Linked DNA regions of Homo sapiens: region 1 is linked to region 2. The links come from fine-mapping of genetic effects on gene expression. Tissue or cell type: whole blood. Region 2 holds a variant in brackets; the other region holds the start of a gene. All regions are shown on one strand. Distances are from middle to middle.

Region 1 (12,334 bases), 20 kb before region 2:
CCAGCCTGGGCAACAAGAGCGAAACTCTGTCTCAAAAAAAAAAAATTCATTTTACATCCAACCACCATTTTGGCTTTAAAGACGCCACTTGATATTGACACTTTGTAGATGTCGTATGACTATTCCCATGTGTCTCTATCTACTGGTGAGGGTCCTACTACTCTTTTAGTATAAGCAGTACCACTGACTTCCAATCAACTAGTTTCGACAAAGTCTGAAAAAGAGTAATTAACCTAGCACTAGCCCTAATAACTGACACTTTATTAACTCTATTATTAGTAGTAATTACATTTTGACTTGCATAACTTAATACTTACATAGAAAAATCCAGCCTTTATGAATGTAGATTTGATCCATTAACCTCTACCCACCTCCTCTTCTCCATAAAATTCTTTCTAGTAGCCATCACATTTCTCCTATTCGATTAGAAATCGTCCTATTCCTACCCCTGCCATGAGCCCTTCAAACAAATAACCTTATACTAATAATCAGTACAACCCTTCTACTAATTACCATTCTAATCCTAGGCCTAATTTATGAATGAACCCAAAAAGGATTAGATTGAGTTGAACTGGTAAATAGTTTAAATTAAATGATTTCGACTCATTAGATTATGATAGACCATATTTACCAAATGCCATTTATTTATATTAACATTATATTAGCATATACCATAGCACTGCTGGGAGTACTAATCTATCGATCCCACCTAATACCATCTCTATTATGCCTAGAAGGCATCATACTATCAATATTTATCATAAATACACTCATAATTTTAAACATGCATTTCACTCTAGGATTCATAATACCCATTATCCTCTTAGTATTTGCTGCCTGCAAAGCCGCAGTAGGCCTTGCTTTCCTAGTCTCAATCTCCAACGCATAAGGCCTAGACTATGTACAAAATCTAAATTTACTCCAATGCCAAAAATTATTATTCCAACAATTATACTGTTACAATATAACTCTCCAAAAACTCTATAGTCTGAATATAGCTACTCATAGCCTATTCATCAGCCTCATTACCCTATTATTTTTTAATCAACCAAACAATAATTCATCTAACTTCTCATTAACTTTTTCTTCTGACGCATTAACATCACCTCTTCTAATCCAAACAGCCTGACTACTACCTCTTATAATCCTAGCAGGCCAACATCACCTATCTAATGAATCACCCTTATGGAAAAAAACTCCGTATTTCCAAATTAATTTTCCTACAACTTTTTTAAATTACAGCATTTACAGCCACAGAACTAGTCATACTTTACATTCTTTTCGAAGCTACACTCATCCCTACCCTAATCATTATTACCTGCTGAGGTAACCAACCAGAATGCCTAATGCAAGCTCATACTTATTTTACACACTAGTAGGATCCCTTCCCTTACTTATTACACTCATCCACACCTGAAATAGCTCAGGTTCACTAAATATCCTAATAATAATGTTTACTAATCAAGAACTATTAAACTTCTGATCTAACAACCTTATATGACTAGCATGTATTATGGCTTTTATAGTAAAAATACCCCTATACGAACTTCACCTATGACTCCCTAAAGCCCACATAGAAGTCTCTATTGCCAGCTCAGTAGTTAGGAGGCTACGGTATCATATGACTTACCCTCATCCTCAGCCCCCTAATAGAATATATATCCTACCCCTTCCTCATACTATCCTTATGAGGAATAGTTATAACAAGCTCTATTTGTCTAAGACAAACTGATTTAAAATCACTTATCACTCATTCCTCCGTAAGCCACATAGCACTTGTTATTATAGCTATCCTTATTCAAACCCCCTGAAGCTTTTCAGGCGCAGTCACTTTACTTCAACTTCGGCAATATCAAAATTGTCTGCTGCAATGCAAAAGTCACAGTGAATACACTGCTAGAAATACCATGTCTCGTTGTGGCTAGAATAAAAACAATCACTTGTGAGTTTTGTGCACTAACCACCCTCGCCTCTTTCCTTATCACTAGAGCTAGAGGTTCTTTTCCATGTAGTTTTGTGGGTGACTTGACAATTTATGAAAATTTAACTTCTATGCTCAGAATTCTTTTTTGATTTACCATACACATAAAAATTCAATTTGAGATGGGTATGAGTAGGATTCTTTTCTACTCTGACTCTCCTTTAAGAAGACCACAGGGGAATCTTTATCCCATACTTCAGAAATAGTTGTGCTATTCTGCAGCAACTCACACAACACTTATGAATATTCAAACTCCAGTAGTTGCCCATGCTTCCCTCTAACCATCTATTTGCAAGACTGCTGTTTACTCCTAGCAAAGTATCCAAGACCATAATATGGTCTTCATTTGGGTACTGACTTTATTTCTAGATTTCCCCATATTTTGCCTACCCTAATAATTCATTCCCCTTGATTTCCTTACATTACAGAAAATGCTTTAACACACATGGTTGAGCCACCACAAATCCTTTCTGGAAAGACATAGCAACTATAATCACATACCCAATAATTAAAACAGAGATTTAATTTCGTACCTTGACTGTAAGATCAGATCGTTCTTGTAATTTGTAAGTCTTAGAGAAAAGAAGTCTGATTATCCAGAGGATCAGAATCCCTTCCAAAATAAGATGGTAAGCAGGAGCCTAAGAGTGAGTCAAAAACAAGTAAGATATGAAACATACACTTCTAACACCTGCACATAAAATTTACTACACCTGCATATACTGCCTCCTGTGACTTTTAGCCTATTCTTAACAATTTACTTTCGAAGCTCCCTTAATTTCTATTCATTCCTTTCCCCATTTCTAATAGCAGGCAATTTCTCCCTCACATGAAAAACCCCTAATATTTTTAGCTTTTAAAACTTCTTTGGGAATAAAAATTAAAATTAAAAAAATAAAATCTAGGCCAGGCGTGGTGGCTCATACTTGTAATCCCAGCACTTTGGGAGGCCAAGGTGGGCAGATCACCTGAGGGCGGGAGTTTGAGACCAGCCTGACCAACATGGAGAAACCCTGTCTCTATTAAAAATACAAAATTAGCTGGGTCTGGTGGCGCATACCTGTAATCCCAGCTACTTGGGAGGCTGAGGCAGGAGAATCGCTTGAACCCAGGAGGTGGAGGTTGTGGTGAGCCGAGATCACACCACTGCACTCCAGCCTGGGCAACAGGAGCAAAACTCCGTCTCAAATAAATAAATAAATAAAATCTAACACAGAATCCCAATATTAACCATCGGATTATTTAATTTCAGTGGTTCTTTTTTGGGTACACTATACAAGACTACTCAAATTCTACATTCAACACGCATAGGATTTGGGAGTAAGAAGTTTATGATGAATTTTAAAATTTGCTCATCCCCCTAAATACAATTCATTTATGAATAAGTCTAAATACCCTTTTAGTTTTCTCAATAGTTGGATTCTAGCAAGCAAACATCTGCCCCAGCCACTAGTTAAGAGCCCACTCCAAAAAGAAATCACCCTAAGAAAAGCTGAGAAACTCTCTCTCTAGTGAATTAATAAAAATCACAAACACCACTTCTTTTCCTTCCCAGGAAATGTTACATACAGGAGTTCTCCCAAGTCTCACTGTTGGACAGTTTCGGGGAATGAGAAGTTACACTACTGTCAGTCTTCAAAAAGGGAGCAAACAACATTTAACAGAAAATAATCCATTTCTTTAAAAAATCATTTATAAAAAAGATCATTCAATTTTAGTGGCTCATTTTAGGTCACTACAGTTAACCTAATACTGGGCATCACTTAATACATGAGCATAAGACAGAGCCACATCTGCTGTCTCTGCTGTTTCAAGATAAAATTCCCAGTATGTCCTGCAATGGAAGACACTGTCATTACCCCTACCAGTAGACGGTGATATTAAGTTTGGTGATATTAAATCATCAAAAGTAAAGTGAAATTCACTTGAAATGAATGTAAGCTCTTTAAGCACAGGGACTTCTGCCTATTTGTTCACCGCACTATCCCTAGCATCTAGATCTGTGTGGTCCAATGTGGACAGTCACTAAGTTACACGTGGCTATTTAAGTTAAATTAAAAATTCAGTTGCAGCTGGGTGTGGTAGCTCATGCCTGTAATCCCAGCACTTTGGGAGGCCAAAGCAGGAGGATTACTTGAGGCCAGGAGTTCGAGGCCAGGCTGGGCAACACAGCAAGCCCCCGTCTCTATTAAAAAAAAAAAAAGATTAGTTGGGCATGGTGGTATGTGGTCCCAGCTACTCGGGAGTCTGAGGTGGGAGGATCGCTTGAGTCTGGGAGGTCAACGCAGCAGTGAGCTGATCGCACCACTGCACTCTAGCCTGGGCGACAGAGTGAAACCCTGTCTTTAAAAAATAAAATAAAATAAAATAAGTTCTTCAGTGCCCAATGAATAGCTCTGCAAGACAGCACGGGGACTCTCAGTTATTAAATGAATGAACACTAAGATTGACATTCTGGTTTCTTATTATCTTATGTATCTGAAATAACTAGGCTTCAAAAAACTCTTAACTATTCTTCCTTTAAAAGTCTACGGCCAGGTGCAGTGGCTCAAGCCTATAATCCCAGCACTTTGGGAGGCCAAGGCGGGCGGATCACCTGAGGTCGGGAGTTCGAGACCAGCCTGACCAACATGCAGAAACCCCGTCTCTAATAAAAATACAAAATTGGCCGGGCATGGTGGCACATGCCTGTAATCTCAGCTACCTGGGAAGCTGAGGCAGGAGAATCGCTTAAACCCGGGAGGCGGAGGTTGTAGTGAGCCGAGATCACGCCCTTGCACTCCAGCTTGAGCAACAAGTGCGAAACACCGTCTCAAAAAAAAAAAACAAAAATAAATAAATAAAAATCGACTAAACTAGTTGTATCTTTATAAGACAGAAAACTGATGTACGCAGAAGAATGACAAACTATTTTTTATTCACAAATCCTAAGTCACTTGATTTCTTTTCGACAAAAACAAACTCCAATTTATTACAATTTTATTCCCCAACGAACTGTACCGTAGTTCCAAAGAGCTGACTTCCTTAGGACCTTCCCAGACGAAGGTGTTCCACTCATTTTCACCACTCCGTTTTATCGTCCGTCTAAACTCTGGTTTTTGCAGACCTGTCTCCTGCGTCCCCTTACACGTGTTCCTTTCCGGAGCTTCCAGGGGACCCGGAGCATAAGAATTCAAACCGAGACCCTCAGTCCCAGCCCCCGCCCCCGCCCGTTCCTCCCTACACTCAACCGCTGGGACTAGAAGCTCCCGGCAGTCCTTCCAGCAAGAGGCACCGAGTCTGGGCGTGACCGAGCCAGTCCCGCCGAGGTCTCAGGCCACAAATCCACACGCGTCCTCCCACCCTCCCCGGGCCCGGGTGTGGTCGCGGACCGCTAATGGCGCGGAGCCCACCTCGTAAAGCGCCTGTACCATCTCCACCAGAACCCACTGCTCCGTGGCGGTCGCCATAGTTAGCCGCTTCCTTCCGGAAGGCGGGTCACAAGCGCGTCCCAAAAGTGCGCGTCGCTGCTCAGTGTCGTTATCACCTCCGCAGAGGGCGGGGCGGCGGAGCGCTGGGCACCGCCTACTCGCACTTGCGCACTGGTTGACAGGAGGCTGGACGGGGTCAGGTGGGATGCCGCAGTTTTTCCAAGAATTGTTTACCTTGTGTCCTATTACCCTCCCTGCTGGATTCAGGATGGAGAAAGTAGTAATGAACGGGCCTTACACTTGGTCATCAGCTGGGCGCAGAGAGTTAAAATGATTGCAATACGTTTACTTTATTTTTTTTTTTTTGAGACGGAGTTTCGCTTTTGTTGCCCAGGCTGTAGTGCAATGGCGTGATCTCGGTTCACCGCAACCTCCGCCTCCCGGGTTCAAGCGATTCTCCTGCCCCAGCCTCCCGAGTAGCCGGGATTACAGGCGTGGGCTACCACGCCTGGCTAATTTTGTATTTTTAGTAGAGACGGGGTTTCTCCATGTTGGTCAGGCTGGTCTCAAACTCCTGACCTCAGGTGATCCGCCTGCCTCGGCCTCCCAAAGTGCTGGGATTAGAGGCGTGAGCCACCGCGCCTGGCCAATACGTTTACGTTTAGTAGCATAAGTAATCCAGCAATGCATTATCATTAAGAAATGCATAATTATACACAAAAATAGCCAACCCATATAGCACTTCCTGTTTTGTCAGACATAGGCCAAGGCTTTGCAGGTATTAAATCATATAGCAGTTTGGTAAAGAACCTTTTAGAGCCTTCCAATGCATATGCAAACAGTATGCACGCGCACATACTTAATTGGATTGGATTTCTTAAATATAATTGAGATCATAGGGACAAGACTTTTCTACAACTTTTTTTAAATTTTTTTTCTAGCATTTTTTTCCTAATATATCTCATATTTAATGGCTGAAGACTTCCATGGAATAATTTATGTATATTCATCGTTCCATTTTATGTAAACGTTTCCCTATTGGTGAATACTTATGTTGTTCCCACCTTTCCCCTATTACAAATAATGCTGCCATAACTGTCGATGTTCCTTGTGTGTATATCTTTCTGTGCATGTTGGAGTTTTTCTGACCAGTTTTTTCAACATGGGATATATCTGAAGACTATGCACGTTATTAATTTTGATAAGTACTGCCAAAATGGCTCAACCAATTAAAATAATTTGGAAGTTTTTCTATGCTCTAGTCCATGATGGATATTATCAATCTTTTAAAAAAATTTGCCAGTTTAATGGAGATAAAATGATACCTCACTATCCTTTATTATTGATGCTTCTGGTTACTCATGAGGTTGTGCAGCTTCTTATATGTTTATTGGCATTTATAGACTGTATGAATCGCCAATTCATATTCTTAATCCATTTTTCTATTGGTTATTTTTGCCTTCTTATGGATTTGTAGGAACTCTATACATTCTGAATATCTTATATTTTTCTGTTTCATATGTGAAAAATATTTTTGCTCAGTTGCCGCCTAGTTGTTTCTGCTCTTTCATCATACTTTAATTTTAAATTTTATGTAGTGCTTCAGTCTGTTTTTTGCCTCTGGATCTGCATATTGCTTAGAAAGGCCTTCTTCACCACATCTATGGTTTCCAACCATTCTTGCAGCAGTTTGTTGTTATTTGCAATTAGCTCTTTACTCTGGAAACTATATTTTTGGATAATGAGAGTTAAGGGACTTAATTATGTTTTTTTCTAAAGGAATAACAATTTTTTGAGTGCCATTTATTTGAGTAACCCTGACTTTCCCCAGAATTCTGAAATGGTACCAGTGCTATTGATACAGGAGCCAAAAAGAAATTATTTAGGCAGATAGTGAAGGTAAGAGAGTCCTCAGCAGAGCTTCTTTCTGAACAAAAAGCAACCCCAAAATTATTTCTTTTTTGCAAAGAGCAGCCTGAAAAATTGAGCTACAAACATAGATAAGCAAGCTGGCAGTGCACGGGAGAATGCTGGCAGTTGTGCCGATAGAAAAAGACTACCTGGAAGCCAGGTATGTTCAATATGGAGACTCCATCTTCCATTTTCTTTGTCACCACGTGTACAGTGAAGGAACAGGCAACATGGCATCAGTCAGGTAGAGAAGCCATCTGCAGAATAAAATATTAGGGTGGGAAGGCCAGCTTCTTCATGCACTATGCAAATGGCACACCTGGTCCAACCAGTCTTTCATTCCCTACGTAAATCAAACGCCACTTCCTCAAGCTCATCTATAAAACCCTGTGCGTTTCACCGCAGAACTGGCAACCCATTTTCTCTGGGACCCCTTTCTCTGCACAGATAGCTCTTCTCTTTCGTTTGCCTATTAAACTTCTGCTCTTAACCTCACTGTGGTGTGTCGCGTCCTAGTTTTCCATGGCTGTGGGACAATGAACCTCAGGTATTACCCCAGATAATGATGCCGCTACACTATGTGCTACATTTCCACATAAGCTGGCGATATGGAGTCCGTGTCAGTGCTCTGCTCACAGTCCTGTGCTTGCGTGCATTTCCTCCCCCGGGTGCTTTCCTTCCAGCAGCCACGCCTGCATTTCTCAGAGGACCCCCTTGAAGGCTGCCATTCCCACGTTTCCTGCTCTCCTGGAGAGTTGGAAGTATCTGAGAATGTATCTTCTCCTGGGCAGTACTTACCAGTGTGGATTACTGATGGTAGCTGGGATATAAATATTGCAGCTTCCTTGCCCTACTTAGCAAGACAACTCTGAGGGGTGAACTTCACCATACTCTCTGCAATTCTGAGTCAATGGTACTATCTGCAAATTCTTTTACACACTCATCAAAAGGCATATCTTTGTGGCAGCTTCTATAAGAGAATACAGCTGCCATGTAGAAAGATCATGTGAGAACCACATAGAAGGGGAAAGAGATGACTAAGGGGCCCCAGCTGCCCCAGTCCCTGGCTGTTTGAGTCTTACTAGTCCAGGTACCAGACGTGTGAGGGACGACACCTTCGAGGTGGCTCCAGTTCCAGCCACCATCTGGTTACCACCACTGAGAGACCCTGAGTGAGGTATGCCTAGCTAAGCCCAGATGACACCCAAATGTGTGGGCAAAAATAAACGATTGTTATTGTTCTAAGCCACTGTTTTGGGATTGTTATATTTTGGGATAACTGGAAGGAATACACCGTGGGACTTTGCTTGATTTGGAACTTTTGCTTGGCCTCTGTATCAGTTTCCTAGGGCTGCTGTAACACACGATCACAAACTGGGTGCCTTGAAACAGCAGAAATTTATTCTGTCACATTTCTGGAGGCCAGATGTACAAAATTAAGGTGTTGACAGGGCTATACTCCCTCCAAAGGCTCTGGGGGGAGAAGACTTTTTTTGCCTCTTCCAGCGAGAGCCTTAACTTAGTTACATCTGTAAAGAACCTTTTTCCAAATAGGCCATGTTCCCAGGTTCTATTCCCTGATTCGAATGTTAACATGTCTTTTTGGGCTCTACCATTTAACCTACTATAGTCCAACCTCTGGCCTTCCAAATTCACATCTGCCTCATGTGCAAAATACATTCATTCCGTCTCAACATCTCCAAAAGTCTTAACTCTCACCTAAATATCATAAAAATTAATTCAAAGAGTCTCAAATATTCACATATAAATAATCAGGTGTAGGTGAGTCTATGGGTATGAGCTATGCAAGGGCAAAATTCCTCTGCATCTATTGACTAGTGAGACTAGAAAAGAAGTTACCTGCTTCGAAAACACAAAGGTGGGCCACGTATATGATAGACAATCTCACTGCAAAGCAGAGAAATTAGAAGGAATAAAAGGGTCATCAATCCCAAGCAAGTTAGAAATCCAACAAGGCAAAGTCATTTGGTTTCAAGGTCTGGGAATAATCCTCTGTGGCTTGAAGCTGTGTCTTTTGGGCTCATGGCTTCATAGGCCTCTTTGCTCATGGCAACTTGGTAGGTCTCTGCTCTTGAACATTCAGCCTCTACCCCTGTGCCCATGACCCTGTCCTCATAGTGATTCTTCCTTTTTCTTGAAGGGCAGCACATGCTGATACCTGAGTAGTTCTATCAGTCCTCTTCTTGCCTGAAGAATTGTGCATATCTGACAGCCTCTCTTTCACTTTGTCCTGTCTCAGCCCCTTCAGGCCAAGCTGACAGTGTTTCTTCTGGTACAACCTTCTCAAGAACTTTTGAGGCTCCCATGTATGTCACAGGGATCCATGCCATTAGATAAAAGAACCCCCACAGATCTTTCCTGGATAACGCTGGATCTATCCTTGGATCCGTGAGATAATTGAGGGATCCATCAGTTGTATAGCAGATCTCTTCAGCACAATATTGTCTAGGCACACCCTCGGCCCTGTATCCAGAGTACACTTTCCCAACAGTGAGTTTCCCAATTTTAGCATCTTTTGCAATCTGAATAGGCCGAGAAGCTCCCAATCATCAAGTGTTGTTTCTTTTTGCTTAACAGCTCCTTCCTCAATTTGCTTATTTCCTTTTCTGTTTCATTACAAACAGCATGAAGAAACCAGGCTGCATCTTCAACACTTTGCTTAGAAATCTCCTCAGCTAAATATCCAAGTTCATTGCCTACAAATTCTGCTGTCCACCTAAGGACACAATTCATCCAAGTTATTTGCCACTGTGTCACAAGGATCACTTTGCCTTCAGTTTCCAGTAACATGTTCCTCATTTCCTTCTTAGCCTTCAACATAAACCACTTTTAACATCTGTATTTCTACTAACACTCTGCTCATGATGAGATATACATTTCTAAGATGATGGAAGAATTCTCTACCATGCTCTTCACTTCCTTCTGTTCCCTCACCAGAATTGCCTTTAAAATCCATAACTCCACTAACAGTCTCTTCAAGAAATTCTATGACTTTTCTCTCAAGTACCTCAAAAACCATCCAACCTCTATTTATTACTCAGTTCCAAAGTCACTTCCACAATTTGAGGTATTTATTAAAGTAGCACCCACTTCCTGGTACCAAAATCTGTATTAGTTTTCTAGGGCTCCCATAACAAATTGCCACAAACTATGTGGCTTAAAACAGACAAAATTTTTTTCTCCAAAGTCTGGAGATCAGAAGTCCAACATCATGGTATTGACAGAGCCACTCTCTTTCTGAAGGCTCTAGGAGAGAATCATTCTTTCCCCTTCCAGGTCCTGGTGGCTCCAGGAATTCTTGGCTTGTGGCAGCATCACTGTAATTTCTACCTTAATCTTTTCATGGCCATCTCTTCCTGTATGTGTCTCTCCTCTGTGTCTCTTATAAAGTCACTTCTCATTAGATTTAGGGCCCACCTGGATAATTCAGGATGATCTCATCTTGAGATCCTTCATTACATCTGTTAGGACCCTTCCACCAAATAAGGTCACATTGACATGCTCTGGGGTATAATAGGGCTCTCCAGGGAAACAGGATAAATAAAACATATATAGATCTCTACATAAGAGGAGATTTATTATAATGATTGGCTTGGCCAGGCGCAGTGGCTCATGCCTGTAATCCCAGCACTTTGGGAGGCTGAGGCGGGTGTATCACCTGAGGTCAGGAGTTCGAGACCAGCCTAGCCAACATAGTGAAACCCCGTCTCTACTTAAAATACAAAAAATTAGCTGGGCATGGTGGTACGCACCTGTAATCCCAGCTACTTGGGAGGCTAAGGCAGCAGAATCGCTTGAACCCGGGAGGCGGAAGTTGCAGTGCACCGAGATTATGCCACTGCACCCCAGACTGGGGGACAAGAGCGAGACTTTGTCTCAAAAAAAAAAAAAAAAGGCTCACATGATTATGGAAGTTGAGAAGTCACACAATCTGCCATCTGCAAATTGAAGAACCAGGAACATCAGTGGTGTAATTCAGTCCTCGCCCAAAGGTTTAAGAACCAGGAGGACCAAAGTCCAGGGGCAGGAGAACATGGATGTCCCAGCTTACACAGAATGAAATGTACCCTTCCTCTGCTTTTTTGTTCTACTCAAACTTTCCATGGATTGTATCATGCCCACCCACATTAGTGAAGGCAATCTGCTTTATTTAGTCTATGAATGCAAATGCTAATCTCTTCTGGAAACACCCTTACAGACGCACCCAGAAATAAATATTACCAGCTATGTGAGAATCCCTTAGCCCAGTCAAGTTGACACCTAAAACTAACCATCACATGGAGATTAGGACATAGGCATGCCTTTTTGAGATCCACCATTCAACTCACTCCAGTAGCCTTCCCTTCCTCATCCCAACTCCCCTCTCTTTTATCATTTTTTTCTTGAGAATGCTCACTAATAAATTACTTTTACACAAATCCTTGTTTTGTGGTCTGCTTCTGGGGAAACAAACCTAATAGGATTTATATCTGGAGTCTATATTTGATTCCATTAGTCTATTTGTTTGTACCATACCAATACAATATTGCTTTAAAAATTATTTATTCCGAGATATTTTTAGATTCATATGCAGTTGTAAGAAATAATTCAGAAATAGCACATGTACTCTTTACCTTCAATGTCATCAATATCCAGTTTTCCCCAGTGTTAACATCTTGCAAAACTATAGTACAATATCACAACCAGGATATTGACATTGACAGTCAAGATACAGAATCATTCATTTACCACAAGGATCTCTCGTGTTGTCTTTTTACCACTACACCAAGTTCCCTTCCTCTCCCTGCCTTTATTCGTTGGTCCATGTCATCCACTAACCTTCTCTTCATTTCTATAGTTCTGGGTTTCTAGAATGTTATGTAAATGGAATCATACAATAAGAGACCTTTCGGGATTAACTTTTTTCATTGAGCATAATTCCCTACAGATTCATCCAGGAAGCTGCATGGAATACTAGTTTGTTCCTTTTGATGGCCATGTGGCATTCCATAGTATGAGTGTACCACAGTTT
Region 2 (12,334 bases):
TTTAAACTGATGAAAACTTAACACTGAGTAGAAAAAAGGAAAAAAAGCAAACAAGCAAAGAGAAAACTCAAAAAAAAAAAACTCTACAGTGTTACTCCATCTTCCCTTGCCTCAATGGCTGTTTTTTTGCCTTTTTTTGGGGGGAGGGTTTCTCTAATTATATCTTTTTATATCATCTATCTCTTAAGAAACTGTCGTTTTTATTATTATTAGTTTGAGGTCAAGTCTCACTCTGTCGCTCAGGCTGGAGTTCAGTGGTCTGATCTCAGCTCACCGCAACCTCCGCCTCCTGGGTTCCAGCGATTCTCATGCCTCAGCCTCCTGAGTAGTGGGGATTACAGGTGTGCAACACCATGCCTGGCTAATTTTTGTATTTTTAGTACAGATGGGGTTTTGCCATATTGGGCAGGCTCACCTCAAACTCCTGACCTCAAGTGACCCACCCACCTCGCCTCCCATGTTGTCATTATTATTATCATTTTTTTTTCTTTTTTGAGATGGAGTCTCACTCTGTCACCCAGGCTGGAGTGCAGTGGCATGATCTCGGCTCACTACAGGCTCCACCTCCTGGGTTAACGCCATTCTCCTGCCTCGGCCTCCCATATAGCTGGGACTACAGGCACCCACCACCATGCCCGCCTAATTTTTTGTATTTTTAGTAGAGATGGGGTTTCACCGTGTTAGCCAGGATGGTCTTGATCTCCTGACCTCGTGATCCACCCACCTCAGCCTCCCAGAGTGCTGGGATTACAGGTGTGAGCCACCACACCTGGCCGTCATTATTGTTTTTGATAGATTTGTCTTTTAGTCTTCCTACTAATGATATGAGTGGTTTAAATAATGCAATTACAGTATTAGGCTATTCTGTATTTGTCTGTGTACTTAAGTTTACCAGTGTGTTTTATATCTTCAGTTGCTTTCTTGTTACTCATTAATGCCCTTTTCTTTCATATTGAAGAACTTCTTGTAAAACAGGTCTGGTGTTGACAAAATCCCTTAGCTTTTGTTGTCTGAGAAAGTCTTTATTTCTTCTTATGTTGAAGGATAATTTTGCTGGGTATAATATTCTAGTCCAAAGTTTTTCTTCCTTTGATACTTTGAATGTCATTCTATTTCCTCAGGCTGGTAAGGTTACCACTGAGAAGTCTGCTGCCAAGTGTGTTGGAGCTCCTTTTTATGTTATTTGCTTCTTTTCTCTTGCTGCTTTTAGGATCCTTTCTTTATCTTTGACCTTTGAGAGTTTGCTTATTGTATACTTTGAGGTAATTTTATTTGGCTTGAATATTCTAAGTATTCTTGATCTTCATGTTCCTAGGTATTCATGTCTTTCTCTAAGTTTGGAAGGTTCTCTGTTATTGTTTATTTGAATAAACTTTCTACCCCAGTCTCTCCATCTACGTCCTATTTAAGACCAGTAGTTACTAGACTTGCCCTTTTGAGTTTATTTTCTAGATCTTGTAATAGTGCTTCCTTCTCTTTTATTTATTTTTGCTTTTTTCTCCTTGGACTGTGTGCTTTCATATAACCTGTCTTTTAATCTACTGATTCATTCTGCCACTTGATCAATTCTACTGTTGAGAGATTATGATTCATTTTTCAGATTGTCAATTGAGTTTCTAAGCCCCAGAATTTCTGCTAGATTCTCACTCTGTTGCCCAGGCTGGCGTGCAATGGTGCAATCTCAGCTCACTTCAACCTCTGCCTCCCAGGTTCAAGCAATTCTCCTGTCTCAGCATTCTGAGTAGCTGGGACTACAGGCATGCACCACCACACCCAGCTAATTTTTTGTATTTTTAGTAGAGATAGGGTTTCTACTAAACCCCATGTTGGCCAGGCTGGTGTGGAACTCCTGACCTCAAGTAATCCGCCCACCTTAGCCTCCCAAAGTGATGGGATTACAGGCGTGCACCACTGTGCCTGGCCTCTGCTTGATTTTTAAATGTTAATTCTTCATTAAATTAATCTGATAGAATTCTGAATTCCTAGTCTGTGTTATCTTGAAGTTGTTGGGCTTCCTCAAGATGGGTATTTTGAATTCTCTGTCTGAGTGGTCATATAATTTAATCACTCCAGAATTGGTCACTGGTGCCTTATTTAGTCCATTTGGTGAGATCATGTTTTCCTGGATGCTCTTGATTCTTGTGGATGTTCAATGATATCTGAGCATTGAAGAGTTAGGTATTTATTTCAATCTTTGTAGTCTGGAGTGTTTGTATCCATCCTTTTTGAGAAGGCTTTCAGTAATTGAAATGGGATTGAGTGTTGTTACATAAGCCTGTGGTCGTTGTGGCCTCAGGCAGAACTATGAGGCCAAGAGTGCTCATGCGCACCAGGCTTTCTTTTTGAAATTCGAGGTGAGGCCTTTACCACCCGTGAGCTCAGAGGAGGGAAGACTGGGACCTGTCTGAAGGTCTGGAGGGAACTCCCAGTTGCACACTTGCCCCCACTGCCCCTTTCCTGGCATGGGGTGAGATCGGTCTACTTCAGCAACCAGTGCCTGCCCTTGATCCCTGCAGGAGCTGAAGGAGGTGAGCAAGGAGCAGCCCAGACTGGAGGCTGAGTACCCTGCCAACACCACCAAGAACTGTTAACCACATGTGCTACCCTGTGAGTGCTGGGGGCAGGAAAGGAGGCATGGCAGAGGGCTAGGGCTTGGCATGGGAGCAGGGGGCTTCATGTGCCCAACCCTGAATGCACAGCTTTCACTCTCTGCAGATGACCACTCCAGGGTCAGGCTGACCCAGCTGGAGGGAGAGCCTCATTCTGACTACATCAATGCCAACTTGGTCCCAGTAAGGGCCACCGGTGAGGCTGTCCATGGGATCTGGGATCTGCTCGGGAGATGGGCTGGTTTGCAGGCCACACTTGCCTTCATTAGCTGTAACAGCTCTCTAGGAGATCACCAGCTTGGGCTTCATGAGCTCAATCCAGCAGGTGTCTAGCAAGGGTCTACTGTGTGCTGGGCTCTGTGCTGGGCCTGCAGGAGGCAGAGCTGTTAGCCACATTCCCCACCTTCAAAGGAGCATGTAGGCATGTGTGTGACATTCACCACACACTGTGACAAGGGCTGTAATAGAGGAAAAAACACTACTCAGGGCACATGGAGGAAGGGGAAATTTCATCCACCTGAGGAATCAAGAAAGGCTTCCCAGAGGAGGGGACATTTGATTTATTGAAGGATGAGTAACATTTTGATAAGTGATGAAAGAGGGAAGGACATTCTGTTGACTGGAAGAAGCAGCCAGAGAACAGCCAGGCAGTAACGTTCAGGCAGTGTGTGAGAGTGTGTGTGTGTGTGTGTGTGTGTGTGTGTGTGTGTGTGTGTGTGGTGGGGGGTGCGTAGGGGTGAGGGAGTGGGGAGGTGCTGGGTGGTGGGAGATGTAATGGGAAAGATAGCCTGGGGCTGAATGGGCTGAATGAAGGAGGGCTTGATTGTTAGGCTGAGGGCTTTGGACTCTATTTGGTGGGCAATTGGGAGCCATAGAAGATTTTTGAGCATGGAAGAAACGCAGTTTGGTTTTAGGAAGGTAACTCTGGGTGGGTGAAGAGGGTGGCCTAGATGGGCTATTTAACTCATGTCAGTATCTTGTTTTCATTGGGGTTTTTCTTGTCCCTTTGGGGTGGGACAGGGACGGGGGTGATGTCTCTGAAGTCAGCCCTTCTGGTTTGCATTCTGGGTGCACACGTGTTCTTGTGTGTGCACACATGTAGGTGTGTGCACAGCATCCTCACTCCTGGAGGTCAAATGTTGGAAATCTGCTGTGTGCTTGACACCAAGCATTGCCCGTTAACCATGTTCCTGATCTCTGCCTCCTACACCCCAGGGCTACACCCGCCCACAGGAGTTCATTGCCTCTCAGGGGCCTCTCAAGAAAACACTGGAGAACTTCTGGCGGCTGGTGCGGGAGCAGCAGGTCCGCATCATCATCATGCCGACCATCAGCATGGAGAACGGGAGGGTGAGTGCGCCTTGCAGGCTCCTAGAAAGGCCACCAGGTGGCGCACGTTCTCCTTGTGGGGATGGCCCCGTTGGCATCTTCCCGTGGGAAGGCGGGGCAGACTGGAGTGAGGCCAATCAGGCCTGGAGGGTAGTGGACCCACCTCCCACCCAGACCTGGGATGGGGAGGCAGTGGGAGGAAACAGGTATGTAAACTCCCAGCTTGGCTTTGTTTCTACGGGCTTCTTGCCCTGGGCAGAGAAGGCATCAAGGGGTAGGGACTGCCCAGGGCCGGTGTCAAAGGTACCATCAGGGATCCTTCCTTTCGATAAGCCTGGCAGATGCAGGGCCCTAGGACATGCAGAGAGGCTGCCGAGTCTGTCCTCTTGCTGGAGCAGTGAGCCCAGGGCCGCTGGCCGCGGAATAAGGGCTGTTCTGTTTGGCACAGGAACCTTGTGGCTGACTCAGAATCCTGAGAGTCATGAGAGGTCTGAGGGCAAGGGTGCCGGAGCCCAGGCAAGGGAGAGCAGCTCCTGGAGGAGGAAGCCTTGGAGCTGGGTCATTACAGAGAGCAGAATCCCAGCAGGGTGGCAGGGACCAGAAAGGTGGGCAGGGAGGGGTGGGACTGAGTAAAGCAGGGGGCGGCAGTGATAGGGCTGGGCCCACAGCCGCCCTTCCCCTCTCCAACCTTCTGGTCCCAGGTGCTGTGTGAGCATTACTGGCTGACCGACTCTACCCCGGACACCCATGGTCACATCACCATCCACCTCCTAGCTGAGGAGCCTGAGGATGAGTGGACCAAGCGGGAATTCCAGCTGCAGCACGTGCGTGCCCCAAGGATGAGGGGATGGGACAGGCATTAGAGCTGAGACCCCTGAGAAGGTTGCCTCACTTCCTGGGTCCCTGGAGCCCTCTCTTTCGGAGGACCACAAGTACTCAGTCACCACCCAGGGAAGAGTGTGTTAGGGAAGGGGTAGAGAGGCACAGAGAAGATTAAGGGTTTATCTGAGGCTGCACAGTGAGGGAAAGGAAGAACAGGAGAGACATGATGGTTCCTGACCTCCCCCATGCCAGCTCAGGGCTCTTGCCTCACCCCATGCCCCCTGTGCCCATCTTCCTTCCCAGATTGTGCACCCCTGGGGCAGGAAAGCCAGAGACCCGAATCACTTCTCTGCCCAGGCACCCTCTATATGCAGAGGTTACCCAGGAGGCTAGAGAAGGACCTGAGGGCTCAGGAAGCATCCTGATGGGGGAGACATAGCTGCCACCCTCAAGGAACAGTTGGTCTGCATCATCCCTGCCCTTAGGCAGCTGGGGAAGAAAGTGTGAGATCTGGGCCATGGGAACCTGGAGTTAGGAAGATAAGGAGCAGCAGCAGGGCCCCTCTGCCCCCTTGTCCCCTTCCCACCCCCTTCTTAGGTTGTCCAGCAACATCAACGGAGGGTGGAGCAACTGCAGTTCACCACCTGATCCGACCACAGCATCCTTGAGGCTCCCAGCTCCCTGCTCGCCTTTATGGAGCTGGTACAGTAGCAGGCAAGGGCCACCCAGGGCGTGGGACCCATCCTGGTGCACTGCAGGTGACAGCAGGTGAGTGCATAGGGTGGAGAGCCCCCTGCCTGGCCTGGGGGCATGGAGGGCTCTTGGACTGTGGGGAGAGCTGGGGACATGGGCAGCCTCTTCACCCATTCAGCTCCTCAGGGGCTGTCCCTGCGGTGTGGGCATGGGCCGGACAGGCACCTTCGTGGCCCTGTCGAGGCTGCTGCAGCAGCTGGAGGAGGAGCAGATGGTAGACGTGTTCCATGCTGTGTATGCACTCCGGATGCACCAGCCCCTCATGATCCAGACCCTGGTGAGGGCCCTGCAGGCTGGGCTGGGCAGCTGGGACCCTGAAGGAGTGGGAGGGAGGTGGGTGGCCACAGGGCTACAGGAGGGACCAGGAAAGAGAGCTCATGGGGCACACAGAAGACCTTGGGGAGAGGGTTTCAGACACATCACCATCCTACCTGGGCTGTGCTTTCTATTCTGTGAAAGGGGAGGTGGGACAGGATCCTGTCAGCTTTGACACCATGGGACGGTGGAGGGAAGGTTTCTCAGTGGCTCCCTCTGCCCTCCTACCTGATCCCTGCCTTGCTGGTCAGGGCCTGAAAAATCTCCCTGCAGGCCCCCCTCGCTCCTCGCTGAGCAGCCTGATGCCTTTTCCCCTGGCAGAGCCAGTACGTCTTCCTGCACAGCTGCCTACTGAACAAGATTCTGGAAGGACCCTTCAACATCTCTGAGTAAGTCCCAGCTTCCCTGTGCCTCCCACAGGCAGGCTCCCTGCTCCTGTTCGTGGGCAGAGCTGAGCGGACTAGAACGGGGAGCTGGGGAACCTTGAGTGCCTTCTCCCTCTCCAACCCCCCCACCAGGTCTTGGCCCATCTCTGTGACGGACCTCCCGCAGGCGTGTGCCAAGAGGGCAGCCAGTGCCAATGCTGGCTTCTTGAAGGAGTACGAGGTACACTTCAGGCCGGGAAGTGGGTGACAGCCAAGGGCAGCCTTCC[G/C]CTGCTGAGCCAACCCTGCAGTGAGACCTCCCAGCCTCAGGGCACCCATCTCCTTCCCAGCTCTTGCTGTAGGCCATCAAGGACGAGGCTGGCTTTTCCGCACCCCCGCCTGGCTATGAGCAGGACAGCCCCGTCTCCTGTGAGTCTCACTGTGGACCCTGTGGAGGGGCAGGGGGCCAGCGTGGGCTGGGGACCTCTGGCAGCTTCACCCTCACTGTCTTCCCTCAGATGACCGTTCTCAGGGGCAGTTTTCTCCGGTGGAGGAGAGCCCCCCTGACGACATGCCCGAAGCCTGGCTCTTCCCTGTGAGATGATGCTGGTTTTGCCACTGTTTCCTGCCCTCTCTGACCACCTGTACTTCCCGGGCTGGGGCTGCTGGGGGCTCCCAGAGTTGTGGACTGGGCAGGGGGCACCTTCAGTCTCTGGAAGCCAATGATCTGTGCTCTGCAGGGTGGGCCCTCTGGCCGTGATCATACGGTGCTGACTGGCCCCGCAGGGCCAAAGGAGCTCTGGGAGCTGGTGTGGCAGCACAGGGCTCATGTGCTTGTCTCTCTTTGCCCACCCAATGTCATGGAGAAGGTGACAGAGCAGAGGACAGAGGAAGGGAGGCTCAGGAGTTAGGGGTGAGGATGGAGGCGGGTAGTTTGTGGTGCTGTCTGTGACCAGGGCAGGGGCAGAGATCTCAGGAAGTTGCCTGAGCAGCCCTAACTTGGTCCCAGCCATAGGAATTCTGGCCAACGGAGATGCAGCCCGTAGTCACAGACATGGTGACGGTGCACTGGGTGGCTGAGAGCAGCACAGCAGGCTGGTTCTGTACCCTCCTCAGGGTCACACATGTAGGTGCTGGGGCCACAGGGCATGGGGTGGTGCATGGGGAAGAGTCCTGTGTGGGCTTCCTCTGCCCTCTCCAGCACCAATGCTGATCATGTCTTTGCCACAGGGGGAGAGCAGGAAGGAAAGGGAGGTGCAGAGACTGCAATTTCCATACCTGGAGCCTGGGCATGAGCTGCCCGCCACCACCCTGCTGCCCTTCCTGGCTGCTGTGGGCCAGTGCTGCTCTCGGGGCAACAACAAGAAGCCGGGCACACTGCTCAGCCACTCCAAGTGTTGTTGGACAATGGTCTTGGGGGAGTGGACAATGGTCTTGGGGGAGCGGACACTGGAAGCCCCTCCCTGCCCTTCTGGCATAGCCTCAGATCTCCCTGGGCTCTGCTTGGGTTATGGGTCAAAAGGACACAGTCTCACAATGCCCCTGTCTTCTCCACACCCTACCCTGTCCTCAGGAATATGGTGGGAATTTACCGCCTCCCTCCCTAGGTCCAGGCTGGCCGGCTGACCAAGTGTCCGGTGTCCCTTCTCAGTCCCTGCGCCCAGGTTGGGTTTTCCCACATCCGTGGACACCCCCGCCACACCCCCTTTAGGTACCTCATCCACCTCTAGGTCAGTTGCAGCAAGGGTGCAACCCAGCTGGGCACCTTCCTGGCCATGGAGCAGCTGCTGCAGCAGGCAGGGTCTGAGTGCACCGTGGATATCTTTAACGTGGCCCTGCAGCAGTCTCAGGCCTGTGGCCTTATGACCCCAACACTGGTGAGAGGCGACCAGGGGCGACCGGGCTGGCGTGGGGGCTCAGCTGTGGGAAGGGGCGGGGGGATGAGGGAGCTTCTGCCCAGGCCTCTAGGCAGCACCACCCGGGTAGCCACCAGGTGGCGCTGTGGACCGCTGTGCGTTCTCCCAGATGGAGCCCTAGGGGTTGGGGGACACAAGGGAGCCTTTTTCTGTTAGATTGGGGCAGGCGGGGCGAGCCTCCTAACCCTATGTCCATCTCCAGAAGCAGTATGTCTACCTCTACAACTGTCTGAACAGCGCGCTGGCAGACGGGCTGCCCTGAGTCAGCACTGGTCACGGTGCAGGAGAGGTTTGTGCCCTGTGGGATGGGGACAGCATTCCTGACACATCCACGTGGGCCTGGGCTCCCTGGAAGGGCGGCCTCCACTGGGCCCTGTGCTGGGAAGGTACAGGGTCTTGGAATAAAGACCTGTGGCCAAGCCTGAAGCTCAGTGTGTTCTGTCTGTCCATCCTCAGGCCTGGGCCCAGCGTGTGGGTCTCGTGGGCAAACATGGAGCCGGGATGGAAGCTAGGACCTGGAGTCTGGTTGAACTTGGTGACCTATGGCCCCTATGCTGTTGGTTTTTCCCCTGAAGCAATCCTCTCCCTGCTAATCCTCCAGTTTCTAAATTTCCTCAGACTTTGGTCTCTCCACGTCTAGTTTCCTGTGGTGCTAAGCCCTGGATTCAGAATCACAGCTCCAAATTGTTTGTCCTCTGCCTCATCACCCTGTACGCACCATGCTGTATGCAGTAGGGTTTATCCTGTTTCCCACTTCCCTTCTCCTGCCATCCCCAGCCTTCTCTACCTGCCAGAGCCCCCAGGGGCCACCCTCAGCCCCCACCAGGATGGAGGTGCCAGAGCTACCCTGTTACTCGGAAGGCAGGTGCTGGAGGCACCCCTCAGGCGGAGGTGCCAAGTTTTCCCTGCTCCTTCTCTGTCTCCTTCTTCCTCCCCTCTACATAAGAGGTGGGGGAGAAAGCAGGGAAGGCATATGGAGAAAGGAAAAACCAGGAGGAGCAGCAGAGACCAGAAAAGAGGGTGGGGAGGCAGCTGTCTGTCCCACACACTGTAGGACTGCACTGCATACCATGTGCATGATTGCTGGTGGCCACATGAGCTCCTGCCTGCTTCCCTGGTCAGGCTGGGAGTTTCCAGGTGCAGTGCCTGATGCTGGACACTAACTGCCCCTGGTGGAAGGCCCTGGGAGGACACAGAGAAAGCCTGGAAAGATCAGAGCAAGAGTCCCTGAAATGGAGTCGGGTCTCCCCAAGGGGAAGCGGGGAGAGCTCTTTGGCCAACCTGAGTTCCTACTAAGGTGCAACGGGTCAGAAGTCAGGAGGGTCCTTCTCAGGCCTGGTTGAAGAAGGGTACAGAGGTCGTGCTGGCTGCTCAGCCGGGAGCTTTCCCAGAACGAGACTAAAGCACTGGTGCCCTCCCAGGAGGACTAAATGCCGGTGTCCTCCATATGCCATGTTTATCAGGAGCTGAGGGTGGGCCCCCTAATGACCCTCACAAAAGCAGGCTGGAGGCTCTGCTCTGAGCTGCCCAAGTCTGTCTCAAGCAGCTGCTGCTGAGGTTGCAACAGGGCTCAACCATGGCTTTTCCACTCTGGGAAAATCTCACATTGGAGCAGCAGGAGCTGCAAATGAGATGGAGCCAAGGCTATGGTTGAGTGAAGGAAGTGCAGGCTGGCCTGTGGTAGCTTTCTGCCATAGGGCAAAGGTGGCTCTATCTGTGAGTCTTTCTGGTCATGTAGGCCCATCCTCTAGCCTTCTTAGGAGGCTCATCTTCTACTTTCAGCGCCATGGCACCAACGGGAGGCCTAGGGTCAGGGTCTGCTCATTTCTTGGTCCGGCTATGCAGCCCCTCTAGCCCTGGGAGGTTATCGGAGAGTGGAGAGGTGTTGATGAGAGGATTCTGGCATGTGGAAGGACAGGGTGGAAGAAATCCTGGATGCCTCTGAGGTCCCAGGTTTCTGGTATACCCTCTGGCTGGACCATGGGGAGACAGGGCAAAAAAGGAAGGAGGGGTGCCCACAGCCTGCTCTAGCTCTGCACTGGGGCTTGGCTCAGCATGGGAGAGACCAGAGACAGCAAGAGGCTGCGTGAAGGAAGCACAGCCAGCTCACTATGGTCTAAGGAGAGAACAGGGATTGGCCTCAGTTTTAACCACCGTGCCCTTTGCTCACCAGGGCTCTGGGGCCGGCCAGGTCAGCCAGTTGGTGGGATTCCAGCCTCAGGGTGGCCGAGCTGCAGGTGCAGCACCCGGCCTCCAGGTGGCGCCAATCTGCTTACTTTGAGGTGGCCTCTTGACAAGCAGCTGAGCTGCACGCAGTCCCTCAGCCTGCCGAGGTCCTGGGAGCAGGGATCAAGGTGGTCCCCGTAAACCTGACAGTAAACCTGACAGAGGCTGCAGGAGTGCATTTCCACCCAGGGTGCACTCAGCGAGTGGAACTCCACACCCGTTTCTTTGGAGTCAAGGCGCGACCTCTCAGGGAGGAGACTGCTCCTGGTTGCCCACTGCCGGGTCATCCCAGCTTGCAGTGGAACCCTCCGCAGCCTGGCCTCTTCCAGGGTAGCCCCTCACTCCCCTCTCTCTTGTCCTAGGATAAGGCCGAGGAGGGCTGACGAGTTCCAGCTCTGGGGATGCCCTATCAGCTGTGTCACCTTGAACAAATCATTTCTCCTCTTGGGTCTCTGTTTCCTCCAGTGTGAAACGTGGTGAAGGCATGAGGGGCTATGAGAGCCCCAAGGCCTCTTTCAGAGATCTCCTCTGGGTCCCATGTGACCCCGTGGCTATCCCCAAAGGCAAGAGGGTCCCCAGCCCTGCAGCCAAGGCCCTGGGACACCCTTTCTAAACAAGTGCAGGTCTCTGACGGGCTGAGCTTTGCTCGCTTGGGTTTCTTTGCTTTTTTCCTTTTTTTATCTTTCCTGAATGAAATTCCTGCCAGCTCCGAAGGAAGGAGGGAAGGGAGCTAGCCGCAGCGTAGAAAGTTTCCTTGACTCCTCCTCCGGCTGGGTCTCCCTCCCTTGCCAAGCCCAGCCTGTGAAACTGAATAACGAAGATCACTCAACAATGCCTGCTCCTCTCTGACTGCACCGCCCCGCCGCCGACGCCCAGTAGAGCCCCCGGGGCGGTCCCCACCGACGGCGCAGCCCGCCGGGACCGGGAGAAAGCAGCTGCGGACACCGCGCCCGTGCGTCTGCGCGCCTGGCCGCCAGGTGACCCAGCAGCCCGGCCGCCGAGATGCCCAACCCGCCCAGGCTCCGGGCGCTGTGACTTCGCGCCGCTGTGTGCGCCTCCCCGAGCGCCGGCTGCGCCCCCCAGCCCGGCCCGGGGCCTACCGCCTGCCCGGCCCCCTGCCACTGCCAGGAGGACGGCATCATGCTGTCTGCCGACTGCTCTTGAGCTTGGGCTGTCCGCCATACCGGGGGACCTGGATCCCCTGACGGCTTACCTGTGAGTACTGCCCGCCTGTCTCCACCTGGTACTGCGGGCTGCTGGCTTGCACCCAGTCCTGGCCTCAGCAGGACACCTGCTTGCTTGGTGCCCTGGGGCGTGGGCATCCCGGAGAGGGTTCACCCCCTTCCAAGTTGACCGTTGCGGGACTGGGGAGGGGAGAAGAGTCTGAGACTAAATATCAGGCGAGCAGGGAGACCAGGCTTCCCTGACTTGGCTTCCCCATTGGCCTCCGTGCTTGTGGGCTGACTGCGGGAGCCCAGGTTTGGCAAGGTGGGTTCTGGACCCTAAGCGGGAGGGCGCGGGGCTGGCTCCCCCATCTCCTGTTGCTGCATTCTCTTCCAGCAGAGCAGTGCCCAGGATGGTGGCTGAGGGTAAAGCTGACAGAACTGGAGGTGGAGGTGAGGGGAGCGTGCCCCAGTGGGGTGGAAATAATGTCTGTTCTTCTGCCATGGTGAGGACAACAGGGCTGTCACACTGAGGCTGGGTGGCCTTCTTTGGGGGGGGGGTCCCAGAAGCTGGGAGGGGGGCCTTATCCACTCTTGTCTCCTCAGAAAGGGACTCTGCCAGCACCATCTCCCTTTACTGGGGCCTCCCGGCTCCCCCAGGGGCCTCCCTAAAGTCATGTCCCAAGAGGCTGTGTTGGAGACACTAATTTGTGGGCAGGCGCGGAGGCTGAAAAGCGGAGAACCATTTTTAGCGTCTGAGTTGGGGTGAGATGGCCCGTGAAGGGGACCCTATTGGGGGCAGCTGTCCTGTCCGTCTGGCTCACAGGAGCTTCCCCTCA

The links. PIP is the estimated chance that this variant, and not a neighbour inherited with it, causes the effect.
Region 1: it holds the start of SPTLC1, and the variant in region 2 is fine-mapped to the expression of SPTLC1 in whole blood (INTERVAL, PIP 0.94).

Annotation. Positions count from the first base shown.
Region 1 is chr9:92,109,941-92,122,274 of GRCh38, forward strand. It overlaps SPTLC1 (serine palmitoyltransferase long chain base subunit 1), which reads right to left and starts at 5,473. Exons shown (of 15, transcript NM_006415.4): 1 at 5,374-5,473; 2 at 2,515-2,622. The coding sequence starts at 5,430. It also overlaps the pseudogene MTCO3P29, the pseudogene MTND3P23, the pseudogene MTND4LP7 and the pseudogene MTND4P15. RefSeq lists an enhancer at 5,976-6,035.
Region 2 is chr9:92,130,104-92,142,437 of GRCh38, forward strand. LINC00475 (long intergenic non-protein coding RNA 475) reads left to right here and starts at 11,364. Exons shown (of 4, transcript NR_027341.1): 1 at 11,364-11,547. It also overlaps the pseudogene LOC100128076. RefSeq lists enhancers at 3,800-4,431, 4,036-4,275, 9,911-10,490, 11,070-11,649, 11,650-12,228 and a silencer at 11,214-11,393. The variant G/C (reference allele first, on the strand shown) is at 6,481.